7 linked regions of the Homo sapiens genome follow. The protein of the gene in region 3 purifies or fractionates together with the protein of the main gene of each other region. This does not show direct contact. Each region holds a gene or a part of one and is shown on either strand. Other genes may lie near its edges. The genes, in order: PLD1, KLK10, TNFRSF19, JPH1, PLD2, WWP1 and CST4.

Region 1 (3,500 bases), on a different chromosome or scaffold from region 3:
GCCAGAACTTACTTACCTGTACGTTAGCATGGACAGACCCAGGCACTTGATATCTCAACTCATGGGCTGTTGTTTGAGACTTTGGAAGCAGAAAAGGATAAGAAAGGGACCGATATTTTGATTTCATAATCTAAAATAAAGAAAAAGGATAAAATATTCAAATGAGAAAAAAGATTCATTCTCCCTACTTTGTGATTATAAAAGAAATTCATGCCCAGGTGCAGTGGCTCACGCCTGTAATCCCAGCACTTTGGGAGGCCAAGAAGCGGGGATCACTTGAGGTCAGGAGTTCGAGATCAGCCTGGCCAACACGGTGAAACCCCCATCTCTACTAAAAATACAAAAATTAGCCAAGCATGGTGGCGGGCGCCTGTAATCCCAGCTACTCGGGAGGCTGAGGCAGGAGAATCACTTGAACCTCGGAGGCAGAGGTTGCAGTGAGTCGAGATTTCATCATTGCACTACAGCCTGGGTGACAAGAGTGAATCTCCATCTCAAAAAAAAAAAAAAAAAAAAGAAAAAGAAAAGAAAAGAAATTCAGGTTAATTTGAAAAAGAAAAAGAAAAATGTTAATGGTGGACATTTCTAAGTGAAGGGCTACAGATTATTTGTGTTTGTTTTCTACTTCTCACAGTCCTGTTTTTACCTTTTGTAGGGGAAATATTGTTTTATATTTGTAAAGACAGGTTAAATATAATCTGTAGTTACAGAACTTTATAATTGCAAAAATGAGACTATTGTTTTATAAACTAATTTTTTACTGATTATGTTCTAGATATCTTGTCACAGCAATATAGTGGGATATCATTATTTTTAATAACTTCATAGTAAAATGGTATAAAAGAATCATTTGTTTAATAAATTCCTATTAGTAAGGATTTCTGTTATTTCTAATTTTATTTGAATTATTAGAAGCCATATCAAAATAAATTACCTTATTGGATTATGGCTTTAGTTTGAATACCCGGAAATAGTTTTTCTGGATCAAAGATTGCATACTTTAAAAAAGACTTATTGGTGTTGTACAAATTTATCCTCCCTGGGGTAGCATGTATGAGCACACCACAAAAACCACCCCAAACCTAACTACAGGTATCAGCAGAGACTTTTATCTTTGCCAGTATAGCAGGTTAAAAGTAACACCCCATTTGTTTATTCATCCATCTCCCCTAAATTTTTGTTAAAAAATTTCAATTAGAATGTCCACTAAATTTTTATAATCATTATGTGAATGAAAAACAAAGTTAGACTCTAAGTGGTTGATAAAACTAAATTCTTTTTCCAAACGACCAAGGGGAATCATGACTCATTATCCCTTCAAGTAAATAAAGTGAAACTTTAATAACACCTGAATATGTACTTTTTTTTTTTTTTTTTGAGACAGAGTCTCGCTCTGTTGCCTAGGCTGGAGTACAATGGAGTCCTCTCAGCTCACTGCAAACTCCGCCTCCTGGATTCAAGTGATTTTCCTGCCTCAGCCTCCAGAGCAGTTGAGATTACAGGCACCCACCACCATGCCCAGCTAATTTTTGTATTTTAGTAGAGACAGGTTTTCACCATGTTGGTCAGGCTGGTCTCGAACTCCTGACCTCAGGTGATCCACCAGCCTAGGCCTCCCAAAGTGCCAGGATTACAGTCGTGGGCCACCGTGCCTGGCCTGAATGATACGTACTTAACTTATGAATGTTAGGTTTGAATGTTATGTCAAGTTCTTACAAGTAATGAGGACACAATCTGGATAAAAGGAAAATGGCCCCACCTTCTTAATACTTCTTGGTTTGCTCAGAACCAGCTCTCAGAATCCTGTACCAATATAAACCCAGTGCAATTCCAGTCCCATCCAACTGGATGGGACTTTAAAGCTCAAGCCCTCTCATCTAAACCAGGCTCCTATCCCCCTATAACAGCCCTGCAAATGACTACCGAGCCCAGGCTACTAAATGCTTAGTCAACACTGTGTCCAAGATGTTAACAAGGTTAAAATCAGGACCCACACAGCAGCACCTGTCCCTAGGCACTCTGAATTGTCTATGGTGTGGACATTCGGGAATGTTTCCCTTTTTTTTTGCCCAGATGCCCAGGCACCCGGACATCAATGCAGCCAACAGCAGAGCAGTGACACAGTTGTGGCCACAACAGTCTCTTCTTGCTACCAGCCTCCTCTAAACCTCTTCTCTAGTTAGGCCTGCCTCTCTTCATGTGGATAAATCATGATAGCAACATCCAAGTACTTTTGTGAAGTTCCAGCGCTGGATGAAGTGACGTGCCACATCACGAGCCGCCTTCCCGTGGACTGCAGAGGCAATGTCATGCCAGGGCATCCGGGGCGTGGAGTACCTGTCAATGAAATCTGCCCGGGTGCACCAGGCAAGGATCAGTCATTAACTTCAGTGTTGGGGCAAAGTCTCTCTGACTCCAACTATGAAACTAAAAGGAAACGTGGGTTAGTGCCCACTAGGTATATATTTCTTGGCTTGCATAGAACAACATTTTTATAATCAAGGGAAACAGATTTCACATTCAGGGACATAGTCTCCCAGGCACTTCCCCACATATGTTTCCGTTTCACTTAGGATTAGATAATCACTAGACATGGCAAGATGTGAGTTGGTACAAATTATCTAAGGCTGTGTATTTGATATTATATTTTTTATTTTTTATCCTGTTGAAACAATGGCAGGCAATGCCATCTCTATCTCCTCTTAAACATATAAACCCAGTGATAACCTGAAAATATGCCATTCTAACGCTGGAAATGCAGGAAATAAGCAGAATAGAAGATGATCAAAGGGAGCCTACCATTTCCTGAAAAATTACTGATTATTGCCCCCAAAATATGCCTATAAAAATCTGGATTTTTCAGACAGTTCAGCTCTATTTCATGTTCTTTTCTTATTATAACTGAAAAAAAAGTCCTTAAGCACATGCTAATGACTAAATCTAGTCTCCAAAGTTTTAAAAAATTTTCAAAAATCAACGGAAGCAAAACAAAAGGCATTTAGATCATGCACATGTATACTTGCTGAGATGTTCAAAGGTAAAAGACAAAATATAACCAGCACCCCACCATTATGATACTCACCAGCAAAAGGTTTATCAAGTTGAACCCAGTCTTTGAAGACGAAATTGCAGTAGTCCTTTCCATGCCAGAATCTGGTTTCCCCATGCAGCTCTCCCACACCTGTCTGTAAACTACGGATGGACCCGGTATCTGTGAATGCAGCAAGACCCCCTCAGAGACTGTGGTTCAGGTGAGTCCCAGAAAGGGAGGCTCAACTCTCATTTATTAAACACCTAAAAGCTTCTTAATTTCTTAAGACACAACTAGGGTGGCATCTGTCCATTCTATTACAGGCTGTGGGCTAACAAGGTTTTACAGTCCTTACAAGTTTACTTTTAGTGGGCAGTTAGGGCTACAACAAGATTCATCATTAAACAATGAAATTTGACCTTCTCAGGCAGTTGAGTAACTTATTTCCACCACCTACCAGATCACTGGA
Region 2 (2,236 bases), on a different chromosome or scaffold from region 3:
GCTGTGTGACTTTGGGCAAGCCAAGTGCCCTCTCTGAACCTCAGTTTCCTCATCTGCAAAATGGGAACAATGACGTGCCTACCTCTTAGACATGTTGTGAGGAGACTATGATATAACATGTGTATGTAAATCTTCATGGTGATTGTCATGTAAGGCTTAACACAGTGGGTGGTGAGTTCTGACTAAAGGTTACCTGTTGTCGTGATCTGACCACGTCCCGGTGAAAGCGTGTGTCCAGGGAAGAAGTGCACAGGGTAGCCCCCAGTCCCAACCTTCCATCCCCAACCCTTAGGGATGATGGAAGAATCATTTTCCTCACCCTAGTTCCAAGTCCCAGGAAACACCTTTTAACCACTTCCTTCTCATCTCCCACTGTTTCCCACTTCTGGTTCCACCCAACACCAGTTCCTCCGAGCTAGGCTGGCCCTGAGTCATTAGCACCTTCTCTGCCTTCATGAGGCCACTGAACTCAAGGGACCTCACCTTGCTTCTATCCCAGCCTCTAAGACCAGAGGGCCGAGGGGGTAGTGAAGATTGGGAAACCCTTGCCACCTCAACTGCCCAGCTTGTGCCAAGAAACCTCCCTCTGACATTTAGGGGAAAATCTTTGGTTTGTCTGTTATTAATTGGCTGTGAGATTTTCGTCCTGAAAACTTGGGAGGAGGAATTGTTTGATTCTCCCTGAAATTGGGGGAGGGAAGGGGAGTTAATACACAGAATCCAGGTAAGGCTAATAGAAGCTTCAGTGTCCGCTGGGTGTGGTGGCTCACGCCTGTAATCCTAGCACTTTGGGAGGCCGAGGAAAGCAGATCATCTGAGGTCAGGTGTTCGAGACCAGTCTGGCCAAAATGGTGAAATCCCATCTCTACTGAAAATACAAAAACTAGCCAGGCATGGTGGCAGGCACCTATAATCCCATCTACTTGGGAGGCTGAGGCAGAAGAATCACTTGAACCCGGGGGGCAGAGGTTGCAGTGAGCCAAGATTGCACCATTGCACTCCATCCAGCCTGGACAAAAGAGCAAAACTCCATCTCAAAAAAAGAAGAAGTTTGAGTGTCTCAGCTTATCCTGAACTTTGAAGCAGTAACATAAGCTAGCTGAATATAGGCACAACAGAAATTTCCCATTAAGCACGGGGTTTTTGTTTGTTTGTTTGTCCTTTCAGTTACCAATTTATGGAGCATCTATTATGTGCCAGGCCCAGTGCTGGGTGCTGGGGACATACGTAGGGGTGATCACAAGGTCCCCCACCCTGCAGAGCCCACAGGAGGTTGATGTACAAGGTCTGAGCACACAGCTCCCTTCCGTGGCCTCTTTCCCATTCTGCCCCCATTAGCACACGCAGGAAATGTCAGACAGGCGTATCAGCTGGGTTTGTCATCCAAAGACCAGAAGCGAGGTCGGTGGAAACTTGAAAACTCGATTCATTATTAAAGGCAACTCACCCGTCCCTTTAGTCACTCCACAATGTTTATCGAGCCACGTCTTATGCCAGGCCTCAAAGATGAATCAGACCAGGCACTACCCTCAAGGAGCTGCTAGTTAGGTCAGGGAGACAGGCCAGTCTTACATTCCTGTCATTCAGGTCTCCACTCAAAAGTCACCTCCTCCGGGAGGCCTTCCTGAATTGCCCAGGCTATAGGAGTCCACTTTTGGTCATCCAGTCCCGATGCTCTGTTTTTTGTTTGTTTGTTTTTTTTTTTAATAGCACCTATTATACCTGAAATTATCTCATTTGTGTTTACTTGATAATGGTCTATGTCACCCTTCCCCACAAATTCCGTGAGGGCAGTGATTCAGATATTTGTTCACTGTGATTTTCTAAGCTCCTGTATTGTGCCCGGCACACAGAAGTCACCCCCGTTGCTGTGTGAACACATAACACAAATAGATCAGTGCTGTAACAGAAGGGGGTATGGGGTGCACCACACCAAGTCCACAGGCTGTGCCTGAAGGAGTCAGGAAAGGCTTCTCAATGAGGGGACATTTGTGCAGGAGTTTAAAGGATAAGTAGGAGTTCACCAGGTAGAGAAGGAAATGCATTTCAATCACTTTGCTGTATGACTTTGAGCAAATTACTTGAATGCTGTCTCTTCCTCAGTTTTCACTCTGTGAAATGGAGACACCTGCTTAATTAGACTCCCGTGAGAGTTAAATGAGATAGGCTGGGCGCAGTGGCTCACTCCTATAATCCCAGAACTTTAGGAGGCTGAGATGGGTGGAATGCTTGAGCT
Region 3 (3,500 bases):
GTACAAATATAGACACAGACCTTCAATCTCTAGAGTTGCAGTGTCCATTATGATAGCCATTAGCCACATGTGGCTACTGAGCATTTGAAGTGTGGCTAGTCTGAATTCAGATGAGCTGTGTCTTTAAAACCACACCGGATTTTAAAATTTTAATACAAAATAGAGAACGCAAAATATGTCATAAATAATTTTTATATTGAATACATATTGAAATGCAATATTTAAGATATATTGGCTAAGTAAAATAGACTAAAGTTAATTTTACCTGTTTCTTCTTCTTCTTCTTCTTCTTTTTTTCTTGAGACAGAGTCTCGCTCTGTCGTCCAGGCTGGAGCGCAGTGGTGCGATCACAGCTCACTGCAGCTTCATAGGCTCAAGGGATCCTCTCAATTCAGCCTCCCAAAGTGCTGGGATTACAGGCATGAGCCACCGCACCTTGCCTCTCTTTTACGTTTTAAATGTGGTTCCTAGACAACCTGAAATGACATGTGAAGCACACATTATACCTCTACCTGGAGTAATCTTCAGTCGAGGGGAGGCTCCTGTGGTGAGCAGCACCTGCCGGGGAAGCAGAGTGAGGGCCCCTCAGCTCACTCAGGGCATCTGCTTGGGAAAGAGAAAATGTAACTGCCCCTCTGTGTAGATTCATGCCCCTTTTAAATCCATTTCTCTCATTATTTTGGGGTTAGTTAAGTAGGATATGCTGTTTAACTGCACTAGATATAGATCTCTGATTTAAATGAGTTTGTTTATCCTGGTACCCTCAGGATAGTTTTAAAATGGTAATTACTATCATCATCATTACAGTGGCTAATGATTCTACAGCACAGCCAGTCCCACACACTTTACATAACACATGAGCCAGTCACTATTATTACCTCCATTTGAACAGATGGCAACTTGAAATTCCAGTCAGTGTCTCAAGGTCACACAGGTAGAGGTTGACCCAGGCCATGGGGTTCAGAATCTGCCCTGAACCACAAAGCAGTACTGCCCTCTAAAATAAGATCTATTTCTTGACTTTCTTAGCACATGACTATGCCGGCCTTTCCATAGTGTAATAACAGTATTAGTCTTTTCTCCAAAACTTAGATGTTTTCCAGTAGTTTAACAGCTAAGGCATTCAGAGATGTTTACTGTCTCAAAAACTGGGGTCTACTGTAAGGTTCTGGATGATCCAACTCCTTGTTTTCCCCTAAAGTTGCCCCAAAAAGCATACATGCATTCAGTCTGCTTAAAAATATGGTGTAATTCCAATTAAGTACAAAACATTAGTTCCCTGCCACATGCCAAGTACTGGGCAACCAGAGGTAAAGATGACAGACCCCCAGCTCACAAAGAATTCTGCTCTGGTGGAGCTGAAGGCAGATTCTAGTAACACAATGTGTTGAGGATTGTGTGTCCGTAGCGCTCTGGGAACAGAGGAGAGGGACACCCTGCACATTGTGGGGTGCCGGGTAAAGGTGTCCCATTAAAGACATCTTCTGGGTGGAGGGGGTGCTTGAGCCATCTTTAAATATCTCATGCCAGTTTTCTCACAGCATGGGAAGGCCACTGGTAAGGGTGCCTGCCAGCTTCGCCATAAACACTGCATCTGCAGTTGTTCAGAGCATGCTGACCCCATTCCTGTGGTTTCAGGTGCCAGCAAGGTCAACCTCGTGAAGATCGCGTCCACGGCCTCCAGCCCACGGGACACGGCGCTGGCTGCCGTTATCTGCAGCGCTCTGGCCACCGTCCTGCTGGCCCTGCTCATCCTCTGTGTCATCTATTGTAAGAGACAGTTTATGGAGAAGAAACCCAGCTGTAAGTTTTGAGCTCATTACATTTCTTAGCATTTAGGGGAAGGGCATTTATTACTATTGTCGTGCAAGTGTTCCACAAGAGACTTGGCTGAGACAAGCACCAGTGAGTTGTGAAAGAACGCAGGGCACAAGAAACACAGGTGATCCCTGAACAGCAGAGGGCTAGGAGAGCAGTTAAGAATCCACACGTCAGTGTTGACTCCCCAAAAACTTAACTACTAATAGCCTATTGTTGACGGGAAGCCTTACTGATAAACAGTTGGTTAATACATCTTGTTTATTATATGTTTCTTTGTTTTTTTGTTTTTTTGGAGACAGAGTCTGGCTCTGTCACCCAGGCTGGAGGGCAGTGGCGTGACTTCAGCTCATGGCAACCTCTGCCTCCCGGATTCAAGTGATTCTCCTGCCTCAGCCTCCGGAGTAGCTGGGACTACAGGCGCCCGCCACCACGCCTGGATAATTTTTGTATTTTTAGTAGAAACGGGGTTTCACCATGTTGGCCAGGCTGGTCTCGAACTCCTGACCTCGTGATCCGCCTGCCTCGGCCTCCCAAAGTGCTGAGATGACAGATGTGAGCCACTGCACCGGCCTATTATATGTATTATGCCCTGTATTCTTACATTAAAGTAAGCTAGAGAAAAGAAAATGTTACTAAGAGAATCATAAGGGAGACAAAATAGATTTACTCTTCATTAAGTGGAAGCGGATCATTGTAAAGGCCTTCATCCTCATCATCTTCATGTTGAGTGGGCTGAGGAGGAGGAGGAGGAGGGTTGGCCTTGGTGTCTCAGCGTGGCAGAGGCTGAAGAAAATCTGTGTATAAGTGACCTGCGCAGTTCAAACCCGTGTTGCTTAAGGGTCATCTGTAGAATTCACTGAGGTTGCACAGCTTTGTAAGGAGACTTACAAGGCTGTGATGTCCCTGCGCCACTAGGCAAAAATAAAAATCATTCTCAGTAATGGCAACATTAGTACCCTACATTTTGAACTTTCTTAACAAATTATTTCATGTTTGTGCTTCCATGTAAGAAGAAGTCATCAAACATTGGAAGGATAGCTGATTTGTTCTTTAAAAATACAAAAGCTAGAATGGCACAGGTCCACTAGAGAGGAGACTGTGTTCCCTGACAGAGTTCTCACCCCTCATTTAGGGTCTCTGCGGTCACAGGACATTCAGTACAACGGCTCTGAGCTGTCGTGTTTTGACAGACCTCAGCTCCACGAATATGCCCACAGAGCCTGCTGCCAGTGCCGCCGTGACTCAGTGCAGACCTGCGGTAAGTTCAGCAGGGAAGTGCCGTTAGGAGGACTGGAGGTACACAGAAGCTGAAGCAGCAAGAATTGGTCCTGGTTTATTCACCTCACAGCGAGGTGGCTGTGTTGAGTCTTCTGGTTAAAACTAATCTTGTTAAATTATTCTCCACCATCTCCTGTTGGTTTGGGTGTTTCGAGTCTCTTAAGCATTAAAAAGGAAATAAGCATCTCGTTAAAATTCTAGAATTTTTCAGCAACTTTTGGGTCATGTTTGTCTTTCTTGTTTTGAGTCAGTTTATTTAAAATCACGGTAACCTTTGGTAGAGTAGGACTTTATATCCTTTGCTGTCTGGTTGATTCAAACCAAACACTAATATGCCTATTTTAAAAATATGTCTATTATAAAAATATATCTATTTTTAGAATTTCTTAAAGAAGAGAGAG
Region 4 (3,500 bases), on a different chromosome or scaffold from region 3:
CTCCTGAGGCAAGTCCCAAACACAGCCACTCTCCTGCTTCCTCCCCAAAGCCCCTGAAGAAGCAAAACCCCAGCTCAGGGGCGAGACTCAACCAAGACAAAAGGAGTGTGGCTGATGAGCAGGTGACGGCCATTGTCAATAAGCCCTTGATGTCAAAGGCTCCCACGAAGGAGGCAGGAGCGGTTGTGCCCCAGTCCAAGTACTCTGGCCGCCACCACATCCCCAACCCCAGTAACGGGGAGCTGCATTCTCAGTATCACGGCTACTACGTGAAGCTGAACGCCCCCCAGCACCCTCCAGTAGACGTGGAGGACGGCGATGGATCCAGCCAGTCTTCCTCAGCACTGGTGCACAAGCCATCCGCTAACAAGTGGAGTCCCTCCAAATCTGTGACAAAACCAGTTGCCAAAGAAAGCAAAGCTGAGCCAAAAGCTAAGAAGTCTGAACTTGCTATACCAAAGAATCCAGCAAGCAACGATTCATGCCCTGCTTTGGAAAAAGAAGCCAATTCAGTAAGTACTGCAAGTAGCGTTTTCTCTTTCTTTCTTCCCTTTGTTTCTTTCAGCGAGCTGTGTGGGGTGACTGTGCATCTTGATCACAGCCAGGCTAACCAAGGTTCTAGAAGCACAGGGTTGTTTAGAGCAGCACATAACACATTGGTAGCTTGAGACAGCAAAGAGCTCTCTGGGCAGAAATTCCCCCCACCACCCCTATGTTCACCCAGCCCCACTTTAGATGTAATTCAGGTAGGTAAGACCTGACCAGCTTAGCACAGCATCTTAGCACATTTTAGCAAGGCTTTAACAGCGTGTCTTGGTGAGCTTCCTGGTAGCTTGCTCTCTGATTGCTGGAAAGGAATCATGACCCCTGCCAAGGGCCAGCCGCTCTCAGAGCTCTAGGAAAAGGGCACCAACAAGTTCTTAGTTCTCCTGTTTTCACCACAGCGGTCAGCATCTTTACACAAAAGAACGTCTCCTCTAGCCGTTGTGAATTCTTCTCATACATACGTAGTTTGGACTTTAATTAGCCAGGCTTTGCAGCTAGAACATTTTTCTTTCCCAAAAGAGAACTGAAAATTTCCAACAGTTCAAGAGAATTTCTTTGGTCTTCTGTCTTTTCAAAGTGTGAGAACTCTTACAATTTCAGTTTTCTGGTAGATGCAGGTTATTAGTATCAATTAGTCTTAAGCATTTAAGATATTTATTTATTATTCAGCCAGAAAAGCTCTGTGTTATTGAAAAATCTTTATACCTTCTTTAAAAGGAGATTTTTTGAATAATGTATGGAATTAGTGTTTTATCAAATGCTATAGTATTTATAAAATCTGAAGCTAATTATTGATTAAAAAATGACCTCTTGACCTGATCACATCCCTTTAGAACAGAGGTGTTGAAAGTTACACACCTAGTATTCACTAGAAATTATAGAGACATATTTGCATAATGGTGTGGATTAATATCTTGGCCAACAAGAATATAGTACAGCCATCAGTTTCTTATTTTTGTCTGTTTGATTTACTCACAGGATTAAACAATTAAAATTCCTCTGTTAACTTATGCTTAAAATTTCTTGTGTGTTTATTTTGCTAATATCTATAAAACACTGGTTCTCTTCTTTTTTCAAATTTTCAACTTTTTAATTAGCTAAACATAAATTATTCAGATTAACTGGACCAACTTCCTAGGAGTCCACCTGCATGGAGAAAAATTGTTTTCAAAACAGACTAACTTTAAGATTCTGACTCTTCAGTAAGCATTCATTTTAAAGATTTTAAACCTTAATATGACAGTATCTTGACATTACAACTATAATAATCACTATTGAATTTGTTAAATGTAATAGCTTACTTCTCATTTGACTTTCAGCATGTTTATCCCCAGGTTAATAAGGCCTCGCATATATCAGTGTTAGTTTGCCTGATTTACACAGGGAAAAATTCAAACAATGCAAGGCCATACCTTTTATACCTTTGGGTACCCATTTGTGGGCTTTAGTTGACTTCTAGACTTCTACAAGGGGAAGTGTATGCCCCAGCGTCCTATACATTAGGCTGTGATAGGGGGAAAAAAAAGTTGAATTACCCAGCTCTTAGCTGAAAGAGTCTCTCTGTAAAACAGTAGTATACGTATGTTTGGTAAATTCACAGCCTCCTCATTTAGAAAAAACATCTGTTTTACTTATTTGCGGAATTCTCAGATTCTTGGAGTTAGACAAGCATCCTCCATCTCAGTAGTTGGTCCTTAGGGTACCCCTCTACACCCCAAGGGGGAAGGGAAGCCCCAGCAGCTCCGCAGCTACCCTGAGCTTTAGACTGCCTCTGCAAAATTCAAGACCGACTTGACACCTTCACGCGAAGATTCTAATAATTAACATTGTCTTCCCAATAGTAACAGAACGCTGCCGTCCCCACTCCTCAGAGTTAGGAAGTGGCACAGTCATCATAAATGTTGTCAGTGGATGACCTTTAAGATAATGGAGTACTACATAGTTTTGAGAGAAAGACACTGTATAAGTTAGACATTCGTGAATAATTTTAAAATTCACAGAATTGAACTCTGTTGCTGAACTTCCTCGGTTCACATCCCAGCTCTGTTGCTTACCAGCTGTGTGACCCTGGACAGTTTCCTAACTGCTCTGTGCCTTGGTTTCCTCATCTGTACCTATCACAGGGTTGTTGTGAAGATTAAATGAGTCAATACTTTAAAAGTTCTTAGCATAGTGCCTAGCGCAGAATAAATGCTCAAAAAACCTTGGCTATTATGATGTTTGTTTCAACACAATGCTAACTGAAGCATAAGCAGTTCAGAAATATTCAAGTAGATCTGATCCATCCTCAGGATCACCCTGGCTATTGATCTCCTAGAAATACAGAAAATCTCCTGGGATGGAGACTAACACAGGAAATTAGTTAACTCGAGTATGAGAGGTAGGAGAAGGGAGGCTGTGGCATTGATTACTTTCTTGAGGAAGATTTTCCTCAAGAAACTTTTGTGACCCCTGTGGGCAATGGTTGCGTATGGACTCATGTCCTAGGGGCACGCATTCAATGTGATCCCGAAATTTTTGTAGAGTTTTGCAACATGACAACTCTGGTAGGGTCAGAAGAGGCATCTTTAGCGTCTTACCATCAAGTAGACAAGAGGGGAATTTTCCAATTAGGTATCTCAGCCCATTCTGAAAAATGACTACACTTTTTTCTCAGCCATTCCTGTGATTTGCATCCAAGTTTGTTTTGAGGTTCATCTAATCTTTCTTTTGAATTTGTGTAAAATTTAAAGCGTCCCCATCAAATTGGGTTTGAACCTCACCCCCGAAAGAGGTAAATATATATAATTAAACTTTGCTGTTAATACTTAATTAAACTTTGTTCTTCTCTTGTGTTTCTAGCTAGAGAAGCTTTAGATTTCACATAAACCATAGTAACTCTTCTAGCAGAAAATTCCTTACAGTTTTAAATATGAGTGACAATCTCTTAAAGGAAAAAAAGATAATTTTTTGAG
Region 5 (3,500 bases), on a different chromosome or scaffold from region 3:
AGTTCAAGACCAACCTGGCCAACATGGCAAAAACCCGTCTCTACTAAAAATACAAAAATTAGCCAGGCGTGGTGGCGGGCGCCTGTAATTTCAGTTACTTGGGAGGCTGAGACAGGAAAATTGCTTGAACCCAAGAGGCGGAGGTTGCAGTGAGCCAAGATCATGCCATTGCACTCCAGCCTGGGTGACAGAGCGGGACACCATCTCCAAAAAGCTATATATATATTTTTTGATACTGCCAAATTGTCTCCTAAAAGTTATATTCCCATAGTCTATGAGAATACCCACTTCCCCAGCATATTGAATATTGATATTGAATGTTACCAGTGATTTGAATTATTACCAATCTAATGGATTTTTTAAATGTAATTTCATTTTAATTTCGTTGTTTACTAGTGAAACTGAACATTTGCCACGATTGGCCATTTTAATTTCTCTGTGAACTGTCAGTTCTTACTCTTTGCTCATTTTTCAGTTGGCTCATGTGACTTTTTCTTGTCGATTTATTGGTGTTCTTTATGTATGATGTATTAATCCTCCTGTTCTTTAGTTGATTAGGTTATTGTGTCTTTTTGTAATTTTTATTTGTATTTAGCGCATATGGGCAAACACTATTTTGATGTGTCTGATACCACTTGTGTTCTCTGATCATTTCTGATCTTTGACCTTGCTGTCACCTCTGACCCACGACTGTCCTCCGGTCTTCACTCTCCAGAGCTTTCTGGCTTCTGACTCCCCTGACCTCCTTGGCTTGGCCTCCCCCCAGGTTTGTGAATGGGGCAGGTTACTTTGCTGCTGTGGCAGATGCCATCCTTCGAGCTCAAGAGGAGATTTTCATCACAGACTGGTGGTGAGTGGGAAAAGGCCCCAACAACATGGGGCAGGATAGAGCCTGGGGCAGATCAGCATTAGGAGGAGAAGGGGGGTGCAGCTGGTGGTCTGGGGCTTCGTTTGCCCCTAATCCACTGCCCTGAATCCCAGGTTGAGTCCTGAGGTTTACCTGAAGCGTCCGGCCCATTCAGATGACTGGAGACTGGACATTATGCTCAAGAGGAAGGCGGTGAGGAGAGTGGTCAGGCCGCAGGGGGAGGGGGTTGCCTGTGGGTGGAGGTTGATTAGCAGGGCTGCAGTGTGGGAGAATTAGGCAGTCTGAGGCTTCAGGGGAGGGAAAAGTGTCCATCCTGGCCCAGCACCTGTCAGACATCACCTCCGCCCTCTCCCTCTGCCCTAAGGAGAACTGACAACTTCCTCTTCATGCTCCCTCCACCTGGCAGAGACTTCCCTCCCAGTATACATAATACTTTATTGTGTTATCTGGGGGTATACATGTCTATCTCTCTCACTGGACTAGTTAATATCACTGTTCCACTACAAGGCACAGTACCTGCCATGGAGGGGGCATGTGTGGTGTTGATGGACAGGAAGAAGGATGCATGGATGATGCAGGGTGGCTGGGCAGGTGGATGGATAGAGGACAGAAAGGGTGATGGATGGAAGGATATGAGTTGGAAAGGTGGAGGGCTAGGAGGGTAGGCAGGTAGATGGATGAATGATAGACGGTACATAAAGGGATGAGTAAATGCTTGGGAAGATGGATGGATGGATGATGAAGGGTGGGTGGATAGATGTGTGGATGGGTGAGTGGGTGAGCACACAGATGACATTTAGTCTAAGTCTGTGGCAAGCAGCAAAGCAGGGCATATGTGGCAGAGCCTCTAGGATCTCCAGACAAGCTGGAGGGACACACGTGGAAAAGGTTTGGGAGTGTGGAAAGGGGCTACTCTGGGAGAGGCACTAGGATCTGATTCCCCAACTCACCACCAGGAGGAGGGTGTCCGTGTGTCTATTCTGCTGTTTAAAGAAGTGGAATTGGCCTTGGGCATCAACAGTGGCTATAGCAAGAGGGCGCTGATGCTGCTGCACCCCAACATAAAGGTGACTCTCGGCCTCAGAGACCCTCCCACATGACAGCCCTTCTCCCCACACTGTCCCAGCCCCCAGCGCTCCCGCTCCCTGATGGTCTCATCTTTCCATCTTTCCTCTCTCCCTCCCAGTACCTCCTGTTTTCCTTCACCTAAACCCACCCTCATGAACCCTCCATGCCTGCTCCAGGTGATGCGTCACCCAGACCAAGTGACGTTGTGGGCCCATCATGAGAAGCTCCTGGTGGTGGACCAAGTGGTAGCATTCCTGGGGGGACTGGACCTTGCCTATGGCCGCTGGGATGACCTGCACTACCGACTGACTGACCTTGGAGACTCCTCTGAATCAGCTGCCTCCCAGGTAATCCCCCTGAGGCCTTCCTGAGCACCCCCAAACTCAGATAAGCTCAATCAACACCATTTCCCAGCTCCAGCCTTACCCCCTCAGTCATTCCAGGCCCTGCCAACCTCAGGGTTCCTCAGACTTTCTGGGACTCCAAGAACCCACTTTGAAAGTGCTGTAACTGGCCGGGAGCCATGGCTTATGCCTGTAATCCCAGCACTTTGGGAGGCCAAGGCGGGTGGATCACCTGAGGTCTGGAGTTCGAGACCAGCCTGACCGACATGGTGAAACCCTGTCTCTACTAAAAATGCAAAAAATTAGCTGGGCATGGTGGCAGTTGCCTGTCATTGAAGCTACTCGGGAGGCTGAGGCAGGAGAATCACTTGAACCCAGGAGGCGGAGGTTGCAGTGAGCCGAGATTGTGCCATTGTACTCCACCCTGGGCAACAGAGCGAGACTCTGTCTCAAAAAAAAAAAAAAAAGTGCTGTCACCCACCCAGTCCTTTCCCCATTTTCACTGACCATCACCCCATTCCTCTAAAAGTGTCAAAGGCAACTGGAGGGGAGGGCTGGGGAATCAGACCCTCTGTTTCATTCTTCCTCTCGGTCTCTCTCACTCTTTCAGTGCTCCTCTCTTTGGCCCTGGCTCTGTACAGCCCCATGACTTCCCCTTGCCCCTGGCTTGGGTGTGTTCCCCCTACAGCCTCCCACCCCGCGCCCAGACTCACCAGCCACCCCAGACCTCTCTCACAACCAATTCTTCTGGCTGGGCAAGGACTACAGCAATCTTATCACCAAGGACTGGGTGCAGCTGGACCGGCCTTTCGAAGGTGAAGCCTCCCACCCGCCAAAGCCCCAGAGAGCTGAGAGCAGGGTCAGAAGCTGGGGCTGGTACTGAGAGTGGGATGAGAGGGGTCAACGGTGGTACAGCCCTCCCTCTGGCAGGCTCTTTCTCCCTGCCCCAAGTGTCCCAAGGAGTCCAGCCCTGACATCTCCCCTGACTCTCCTGGGACCCCCCAGATTTCATTGACAGGGAGACGACCCCTCGGATGCCATGGCGGGACGTTGGGGTGGTCGTCCATGGCCTACCGGCCCGGGACCTTGCCCGGCACTTCATCCAGCGCTGGAACTTCACCAAGGTGTTCATTCCCTCCGATAGGGGCTGGAGGTAGGGAGGGAGCCAGGGCAGATTGGCACCTCCTGCTGACTCTGCCATCCCTCCACGTCAGACCACC
Region 6 (3,500 bases), on a different chromosome or scaffold from region 3:
GTTATAAGAATGGAGGCATACATAAAAATGTGTTTTTATGTATGTATGAAAATATAAAAGATACTAATTAAAAGTTTATTTCTATAAATGATACTGGAGTTGAGTGTTAGTTTTATTAGTGGGCATTTGTTTTAAAGAAAATTGTGATAACTGTTCTATTTTTAAACAAATAATATTGCCTCATTTAAACATCATAATTTCCTATATGTTCTTCTCCCATTTCATCTTCCCTCTATAGATTAGTATGGAAGGACTGGGAGAGTAAAGTATTGATGCCAGTGTATTATTTTTAAATCATTTTCGAAAAACTAATAATTAATTTGATAGTTGATAGTCTCCTCTTCGTGACATTTTATGAACTTAGTGTCTTGGCTGGGAGCGGTGGCTTACACCTGTAATCCCAGCACTGTGGGAGGCTGAGGCGGGTGGATCGCTTGAGCCTAGGAGTTCGAGACCAGCCTCAGAAACATGGCAAAACCTTGTCTCTACAAAAAATACAAATATTAGCCGGGTGTGGTGGCGCATATCTGTAGTCCTAGCTACTCGGTTGTTGCTGAGGTGGGAGGATTGCTTGAGCCCGGGAAGCAGAGGCTGCTGTGAGCTGAGATCACGCCACTGCACCCCAGTCTGGGTAATAGAGCAGGAAGATCCTGTCTCAAAAAACAAAGAACTTTGTGTCTTGAAATTGCTATATTTCCTTATAATGTGGACCTATCTATCTGTCTATATAATAATATAGATATATTTTTGAGACAGCTTCTCGCTCTGTTGTGCAGGCTGGAGTGCAGTAGTAGTGTGATCACAGTTCACTGTAGCCTCCACCTCCTGGGCTCAAGTGATCCTCCCACTTCAGCCTTCCAAGTAGCTGGGACTTTAGGCATGTGCCAACACATCTGGCTAATTAAAAAAAAATTTTTTTTTATAGAGACAGGATCTTCCAGGCTGGTCTTGAACTCCTGGGCTTAAGTAATCCTCCCACCTTGCCCTCCCAAGGTGCTGAGATTACAGGCATGAGCCACTGCGCCCAACCCCTTATCATATTTTTAGAAAATTATTATAAAATGTGATTCTGCCACATGCTTGGCTTATTTCTACTTTCATATTAAAACACTGTTATTTTATTTCTCTCCCTAATCTTTTCTCCAATCAGGCTTCAATGTTAGCTGCAGAAAATGACCCTTATGGACCTTTGCCACCAGGCTGGGGTAAGCTGTTTTTGCTAATGATCTATAAGGGAGATATATATCTCTCCATATATATATATATATATATATATATATATATATGTTCCTTATTTTATATATATATATCTCCCTTATATATGTCCCTTAACATATATATATCCCTTATAATATATAATATATTTAATATGGATTATATATTCTATATATTATATATTCTGTAGAATGTTATATATTCTGTATACTATATAGAATATATAATCCATATTAAATATATTATATATTATAAGGGATATATATGTATATTATATATGTATATATTATAAGGGATATATATATGTATATTATAAGGGATATATATATGTATTATATATATAATATACAGAATATATAGAATAGATTATATATTAAAGAATTATATATTATAGAATATATATTATATTCTACATAATTATCTATAATATAATATATATTATATTCTCTATAATATAATATATGTTATATTCTCTATAATATATATTATATTCTATATAATATATTCTATAATATATAAGGGATACATATATCCCTGATATGTTTTTATATATATAATATATATTATATATAATTATATGTGTTCCTTATTTTATATATAGATCCTAAATAGTTATTAAATATTATACTCACTTTATATTTCAGAAAAAAGAGTGGATTCAACAGACAGGGTTTACTTTGTGAATCATAACACAAAAACAACCCAGTGGGAAGATCCAAGAACTCAAGGGTATGTATATACAGCAGCCTTAAGTCGTCTTGCATATATCAGTAGGTAGAACCAACCAACCTTGAATGAGATATTTTTAGTACCTAGAAAAGGTTCATCTTGTGATTTTAACTTTATCTTTTAGCTTACAGAATGAAGAACCCCTGCCAGAAGGCTGGGAAATTAGATATACTCGTGAAGGTGTAAGGTACTTTGTTGATCATAACACAAGAACAACAACATTCAAAGATCCTCGCAATGGGAAGTCATCTGTGTGAGTGAAAACCTGAAGTTCTCCTTTAAATATTGCTTAGTGAGCACATGAGATTTAGTCTCTAATTTATCCTCAAGTTTAGCAAAACATTTTACTTTTTGGTTCAAGAAAACCTACACAAGTGAAACCTTAGTATAGCTGTCTTTGCTCTCATTTGACAATGGATTTGCAGCATGTAAACTATTTATGTAGTGATTACTGTGTGCCGAGGATTGTTCTAAGTACTTCATAGGTATTAACTCATTTTATCTTCCAATAACCCCTTGAGGTAGATACTATTATTTTTCCCTTTACCAAGTGAGGAGAGGTATAGGGAGCATAACTAACTGTGCAAAGTTATAAGGCAAGTAATGGAGCTGGTTTCTAACGATGACAGTCAGTCTCTGTCTAGACTCTGTGCTCTTAACTGCCACATCACACTGCTGCAATGAGATGGTCAGTGAAATGATTTTTCCAGATTTAAAGATACCTTAATTAAGCGGTTGACAGATCTCTCCTTCATTCTTACTCTAAGGTGTCATGTCTTTGCATAACTAAGAAAATAGAAGCAATCCTAAAAGGTCTTTTGCAAAGTTGTACCACCATATCTGTCCGTCTCCTACCATCTCTCCTCCCTCCTGTTCCTATAGATGAACTGTCATTGTTATTATCAAAGTCTCGTCCCTCTGCTGGTACATTCGATTCCTACCCCCACTTTTCTACTTAATTGCTCCAACAGTTATCACCTTTGTGTTGCATTATCAGGTTTTATTTCTCTACAAAATTATTCTTATCAGCTGTTATTTCTCCTAGATATAAAAAAAAAGCAAAAAAAAAAAGAAATTACAACTCTTCCCTTTACCAATGTGTTCAATCGCAGTTCATTTTTTTGTTTTTTTTTTGAGACGGACTTTCGCTCCTGTTGCCCAGGCTGGAGTGCAATGATGCGATGTCAGCTCACTGCAACCTCCACCTCCTGGGTTCAAGCGATTCTCCTGCCTCAGCCCCCTGAGTAGCTGGGATTACAGGCACCCGCCACCACACCCAGCTAATTTTTGTATTTTCAGTAGAGATGGGGTTTCGCCATGTTGGCCAGGCTGGTCTCGGACTCCTGACCTCAGGCGATCCACCTGCTTTGGCCTCCCAAAGTGCTGGGATTACAGGCGTGAGCCATCACACCCAGCCCACAGTTCATTTTTATTGCTCCCCTTTACAGGAAAGCTACTTGCATGGTTGTCTCTGTATTGCTGTTCATAGTTTCTCCTTTAAACCAACTCCAAGGAAGTTCCCCTGACACTGAATTTGCAAGGGCACCAATGATCTT
Region 7 (4,235 bases), on a different chromosome or scaffold from region 3:
ACGTGAGTCTTCCAAGGAGTGCACAGAGGAAAGGAGCCTGAAGCATGGCTGCCTAGGAGAGAAGCAAGAGAGGCCTGTGGGTTCCCACATTCATCCCGTGGCTGCTGCTCCCTCTCCTGACACCCCCACTGCCTCACAGGGGTCTCCGTGCACCTTCCACCGGTCCTCACCCACAGTTACCGTGAGACTCCAGGTGGTTTCCTCCCTTGCTCACATCCCCTCCAGGAGCTTCCTCTTCCTGGAGCAGGCATGTCCCAACCCCACCTCAGGGCCTTTGCACTGGCTGTTCCCCGCTGCCTGGGGCTGCTCAACCTCTCCAGTCTCATAGAGACCACCCTGACCAGGGTCCAGTGGTCTCTCTCTAGCCCCTGTTCTATTTCACTTCCAACAGAGTGAGTATAACTCCCTGATCCTAATTGTTGATCGTAACCTACCATCCTCTACACACACTGTGTAGGAATTTACTGTGCAGTTCCACAGCCACCAGCCACATGTGCCACAGGACACTTGAAATGGGGCCAGTCCAAAATGATTCCTGGGCTAAGTGTAAAAAATACACAGGGAATTTCAAAGATTTACAAAACCAAAAAAAAAAAACACACATAAACGATCTCATTAATAATTGTTCCCGTTAGCTGAAATAATATTGTGGCTATATTAGGTTAAATAAATATTTTAAACATTACTTTCACCCATTTATTCTCATCTTTTAAAATGCATCTACTAGAAATTTTCAAATGCTTGTGGGTTCATGTCACATCTCTGTGGGCAGCAGCTCTGCAATGTCACCTCTATGGCTCATCATCCAGGTTCCGTCTTCAAGCCCTAGACCTCCTGGCATGGGCAGTAACTGGTGATAGGTTTGTTTATTGAATAATGAGTTATGAAAACAGAAGCCAGTGACCTTTTCCAAAAAGGTTAATTCCCTTAAATTTGGCAAAGAAATTCTCCATATTAGGGTGTGGACAGGGTCTTCTGGAACCTTCTGAAATAACCTCTCTGTTCCAGAGATTCAGAGACCGTGACCAAGTGCTCCTGGAAGCCTCTGATATCTGAAGACCCCGGGAGGCCAAGCCCTGTATTTTTCCCCTTTCTGAGCAAACAGGAAGTCACATTGCTTTCACAGTCAAAGGACCAGTGTCACCTCTGTGGAGACCTGGGTGACTCAAGCTTGGGAGCACTGGGGAAGAGAGGCATGGCTCAGGGAGGCTGCAGTGAGGACTGGAGTGGGGAGGAGGGGGAGATGGAGGAGGAGGCCTGGGAGGGGCAGGGGGAACTTAGGCAGGGAGGGAGCTTGTAGTGGTGGGGGAGTGAAAAGAGAGATGGAGAAAGAGGGGATGGGCAGAAAGAGGAGGAGGAGTCAGGGGCAGGGCATGGAGGTGGGTGGGGCTGGGCTGCCAAAGCAGGATAAATGCACACCTGCCTGCTGGTCTGGGCTCCCTGCCTCGGGCTCTCACCCTCCTCTCCTGCAGCTCCAGCTTTGTGCTCTGCCTCTGAGGAGACCATGGCCCGGCCTCTGTGTACCCTGCTACTCCTGATGGCTACCCTGGCTGGGGCTCTGGCCTCGAGCTCCAAGGAGGAGAATAGGATAATCCCAGGTGGCATCTATGATGCAGACCTCAATGATGAGTGGGTACAGCGTGCCCTTCACTTCGCCATCAGCGAGTACAACAAGGCCACCGAAGATGAGTACTACAGACGCCCGCTGCAGGTGCTGCGAGCCAGGGAGCAGGTGGGTGCTGCCTCCACCCGAGGGGTCCTGAGCCCTAGCCTGGTTTGTTGCCGGACCCCCAAGAGCATTCCAAGCAAATCAACACTGACACATTCATGATCTAATGCTCAGATTCATTCAGCTTTCTCTGACTCTCCGCTGATGCCCTTCATGCCTAAGCATGCTCCCGGTCCATGCACTGCAGACAGTTAAAGGAAGTGCTGCAGCTTCCTTTAACCTGCAGCAGCTGCTGTGTCTGTACCATGACCGTGGCATTTCCCAGCGTCCAGCAGGTGTGGATGGAGACTGTGCTGACTCTGGGTGGGCTTGATGCTGCTCAGGATGAGATCCAGGCGGTGAGGCTCATTCTCCTCCCTGAGTCCTCTCCTCAGGGGCCACATGGGAACCTGGCTCCCTGTTCTGCAGAGCCCTTCTTCCTTCCCCAAGTCATGCCCTTGGGCACAGCCCCTTAGGGCTAGTGGCCTTCACCCTCAGGCAGGCTGACCCACCCCTGCAGGCCAGGATGGCTGAGTCCCTGCTGGGGTGGAGCACGCCTGGCCCTGCCTCTACGAGCTGATGCAGAGTTAGACCTCAGCCAGATGAGGACAGCAGTCACCCAGCAGAGCAGAGGAGGGGTTAGGTCCAGAGTGAGCTTCAGCAGGGCAACTGGGCCCAGCTTGACCTGCATCCCATGGCAGAGCAGCAAATAGTGACACAGCCTTTAGAGCTCCTCCACCTTCTAGAAATTCAAAGGAATCCAGACCAGTCCCGTTTCTCCTCCTACAGCTGTCAGCTGGAGCCCTCACCCTGCACAGGAGGTGCACTCCCTGGTGCCATGGTCCCCGCTGGCCTGCATCTCCCTCTTAAGCATGACAGTAACTTGGAGTGAAGCACAGGGCATTGCAGACCATCAGACCTGGAAGCCTATTTTATACATGGGTAAACTGATACTCGAGGGATCTCAGCAGTTCCTCCTGGTTCCAAAGAGTCCCTCATCCCAGGTTTCTCCACAGCTCTGCCACGTAGTGTCTGGGAGAGGCCCTGTGCAGGGAAAGGGTTCAATTATAATCTGCAATTGTAAGACACTCAGGTGTGCTGCTGACTTGAGAAACGTATCTTGAACCTCACACTTGAAATGGTGGCATCTGGGCGGCCCCATTGACCCAAAATATCTGTGTGTGTGAAGCATCTCATTTCCTACTCTAAGTGAAGTAATAAATCTAGGTTAAATGGAGGGAATAAGATTTTCGTGAGTTAGCTGAAATTTTGTCATCAGACAGCCTTCCTAGAAAAGAGTCAGTGTTCCCTCACCCCTGAGCCACAGGTAGCAGAATTCAATGAATCCTCTTACCCAGCACAGAGAAAACGATGTTTAAGAGCGGGCATGAGGCTCAGCACCCTGCCAGCTGACAGGAAGAGGGGGCTTGTGTGCCTTGTGTTGACATGTGGGCAGCTCACGAAGCCCCCAAGCAAGTCCAGTGACTCAGCCACAGTGAAGTGCCTGTGAGTGCATGAACTGATGGGGGCGCTGTCCGTGCTTCCTGTTTTCTCCTGTGTGCAGACCTTTGGGGGGGTGAATTACTTCTTCGACGTAGAGGTGGGCCGCACCATATGTACCAAGTCCCAGCCCAACTTGGACACCTGTGCCTTCCATGAACAGCCAGAACTGCAGAAGGTACGTTCCTGATGCGGGTCCCGGGCCAGTCATGCACTGCAGAGGGGTGCGTATGTGTCAGCCTCTGTCCTACCCATGTTTGGACGGTGTGTGTGTGCAGGTGGGTATGTGGGGAGCCGTGTATGCATGGATGTGTACGTGTTCATGTACTTATGGGGGGGTGTGCATGTAGGTGTGCATGTGGAAAGGTGCACGTGTGTACACACATGTGCCAGTGTGTGCGGGTAGGTGTATGGAAGCATGTGTGCCTGTGTGTGGGTGTGTGGCGGAAGTATGGGGGTTTGTACATAGATCCATGGGGATGAGGGGTCCAAGTGAGTTTACGTAGTTGCCTATGTGTGTGCAGATGGGGTGGTGAGGGAGGGGGTGATGTGTTTGATTTGCTAGGAAGGCTTTAGCTTGGGAATGGTTACTAGAAGGTCAACTGCCTGCTTTGGGGTGTTGCCTGTTGGACAGGAAGAATCACCTGCGGGGCTGGGTGCTGGGCAGGGAGAAGGGGATCTGTCTAATCCCAGCCTCAGGCACCTGCATGCAGCCAAAGCCACAATCAGATTAGTGGGACCTAGAGGCCTGTTAGCTGGGAAGCCCTGGACCTGCCCGGCTCACCCAACACCAGCCTCTCCAAGAACCTGCTGGTTCTTGTGAGGTCTCCACTCAGGGGAGAGCGGCACTCCCCTTGTTGCCCTTGACCCATGCCCCAGCTCTTTGAGGGGGAGTTGCCCTGCCCTGGGTTCTTCCCTCTGGCCCCTCTTAGTGCTGGCCTGGGTGCTGGAGGTGGAAGGAGCTGGGGGAACTGAGCCACCTCCCCATGTCCTGCACCCTTGGGGCTCCCGAGGCCTTGCCCAGGCT

The links.
Region 1: the proteins of TNFRSF19 (region 3) and PLD1 purify together in Homo sapiens (affinity purification with mass spectrometry; 2 studies listed by BioGRID and IntAct, with this or other methods). This does not show direct contact.
Region 2: the proteins of TNFRSF19 (region 3) and KLK10 purify together in Homo sapiens (affinity purification with mass spectrometry; 2 studies listed by BioGRID and IntAct, with this or other methods). This does not show direct contact.
Region 4: the proteins of TNFRSF19 (region 3) and JPH1 purify together in Homo sapiens (affinity purification with mass spectrometry; 2 studies listed by BioGRID and IntAct, with this or other methods). This does not show direct contact.
Region 5: the proteins of TNFRSF19 (region 3) and PLD2 purify together in Homo sapiens (affinity purification with mass spectrometry; 2 studies listed by BioGRID and IntAct, with this or other methods). This does not show direct contact.
Region 6: the proteins of TNFRSF19 (region 3) and WWP1 purify together in Homo sapiens (affinity purification with mass spectrometry; 2 studies listed by BioGRID and IntAct, with this or other methods). This does not show direct contact.
Region 7: the proteins of TNFRSF19 (region 3) and CST4 purify together in Homo sapiens (affinity purification with mass spectrometry; 2 studies listed by BioGRID and IntAct, with this or other methods). This does not show direct contact.

The regions. Positions count from the first base shown.
Region 1 is NC_000003.12:171,674,484-171,677,983, forward strand, and holds part of PLD1 (phospholipase D1), read right to left. Parts: intron 3,212-3,500; coding exon 3,083-3,211; intron 2,351-3,082; coding exon 2,232-2,350; intron 131-2,231; coding exon 17-130; intron 1-16. UniProt on the Homo sapiens protein: Function as phospholipase selective for phosphatidylcholine. Implicated as a critical step in numerous cellular pathways, including signal transduction, membrane trafficking, and the regulation of mitosis.
Region 2 is NC_000019.10:51,012,239-51,014,474, reverse strand, and holds the end of KLK10 (kallikrein-10 preproprotein), read left to right. Parts: 3' UTR 1-1,736; downstream 1,737-2,236. UniProt on the Homo sapiens protein: Has a tumor-suppressor role for NES1 in breast and prostate cancer.
Region 3 is NC_000013.11:23,657,412-23,660,911, forward strand, and holds part of TNFRSF19 (tumor necrosis factor receptor superfamily member 19 isoform 2 precursor), read left to right. Parts: intron 1-1,638; coding exon 1,639-1,803; intron 1,804-2,953; coding exon 2,954-3,079; intron 3,080-3,500. UniProt on the Homo sapiens protein: Can mediate activation of JNK and NF-kappa-B. May promote caspase-independent cell death.
Region 4 is NC_000008.11:74,241,541-74,245,040, reverse strand, and holds part of JPH1 (junctophilin-1), read left to right. Parts: coding exon 1-512; intron 513-3,500. UniProt on the Homo sapiens protein: Junctophilins contribute to the formation of junctional membrane complexes (JMCs) which link the plasma membrane with the endoplasmic or sarcoplasmic reticulum in excitable cells.
Region 5 is NC_000017.11:4,813,652-4,817,151, forward strand, and holds part of PLD2 (phospholipase D2), read left to right. Parts: intron 1-766; coding exon 767-850; intron 851-981; coding exon 982-1,060; intron 1,061-1,824; coding exon 1,825-1,935; intron 1,936-2,112; coding exon 2,113-2,283; intron 2,284-2,890; coding exon of another isoform or gene 2,891-2,929; exon of another isoform or gene 2,930-2,968; coding exon 2,969-3,095; intron 3,096-3,285; coding exon 3,286-3,404; intron 3,405-3,424; coding exon of another isoform or gene 3,425-3,494; coding exon 3,495-3,500.
Region 6 is NC_000008.11:86,429,547-86,433,046, forward strand, and holds part of WWP1 (NEDD4-like E3 ubiquitin-protein ligase WWP1), read left to right. Parts: intron 1-1,150; coding exon 1,151-1,205; intron 1,206-1,859; coding exon 1,860-1,944; intron 1,945-2,068; coding exon 2,069-2,197; intron 2,198-3,500. UniProt on the Homo sapiens protein: E3 ubiquitin-protein ligase which accepts ubiquitin from an E2 ubiquitin-conjugating enzyme in the form of a thioester and then directly transfers the ubiquitin to targeted substrates.
Region 7 is NC_000020.11:23,686,239-23,690,473, reverse strand, and holds the start of CST4 (cystatin-S precursor), read left to right. Parts: upstream 1-1,435; 5' UTR 1,436-1,504; coding exon 1,505-1,732; intron 1,733-3,272; coding exon 3,273-3,386; intron 3,387-4,235. UniProt on the Homo sapiens protein: This protein strongly inhibits papain and ficin, partially inhibits stem bromelain and bovine cathepsin C, but does not inhibit porcine cathepsin B or clostripain. Papain is inhibited non-competitively.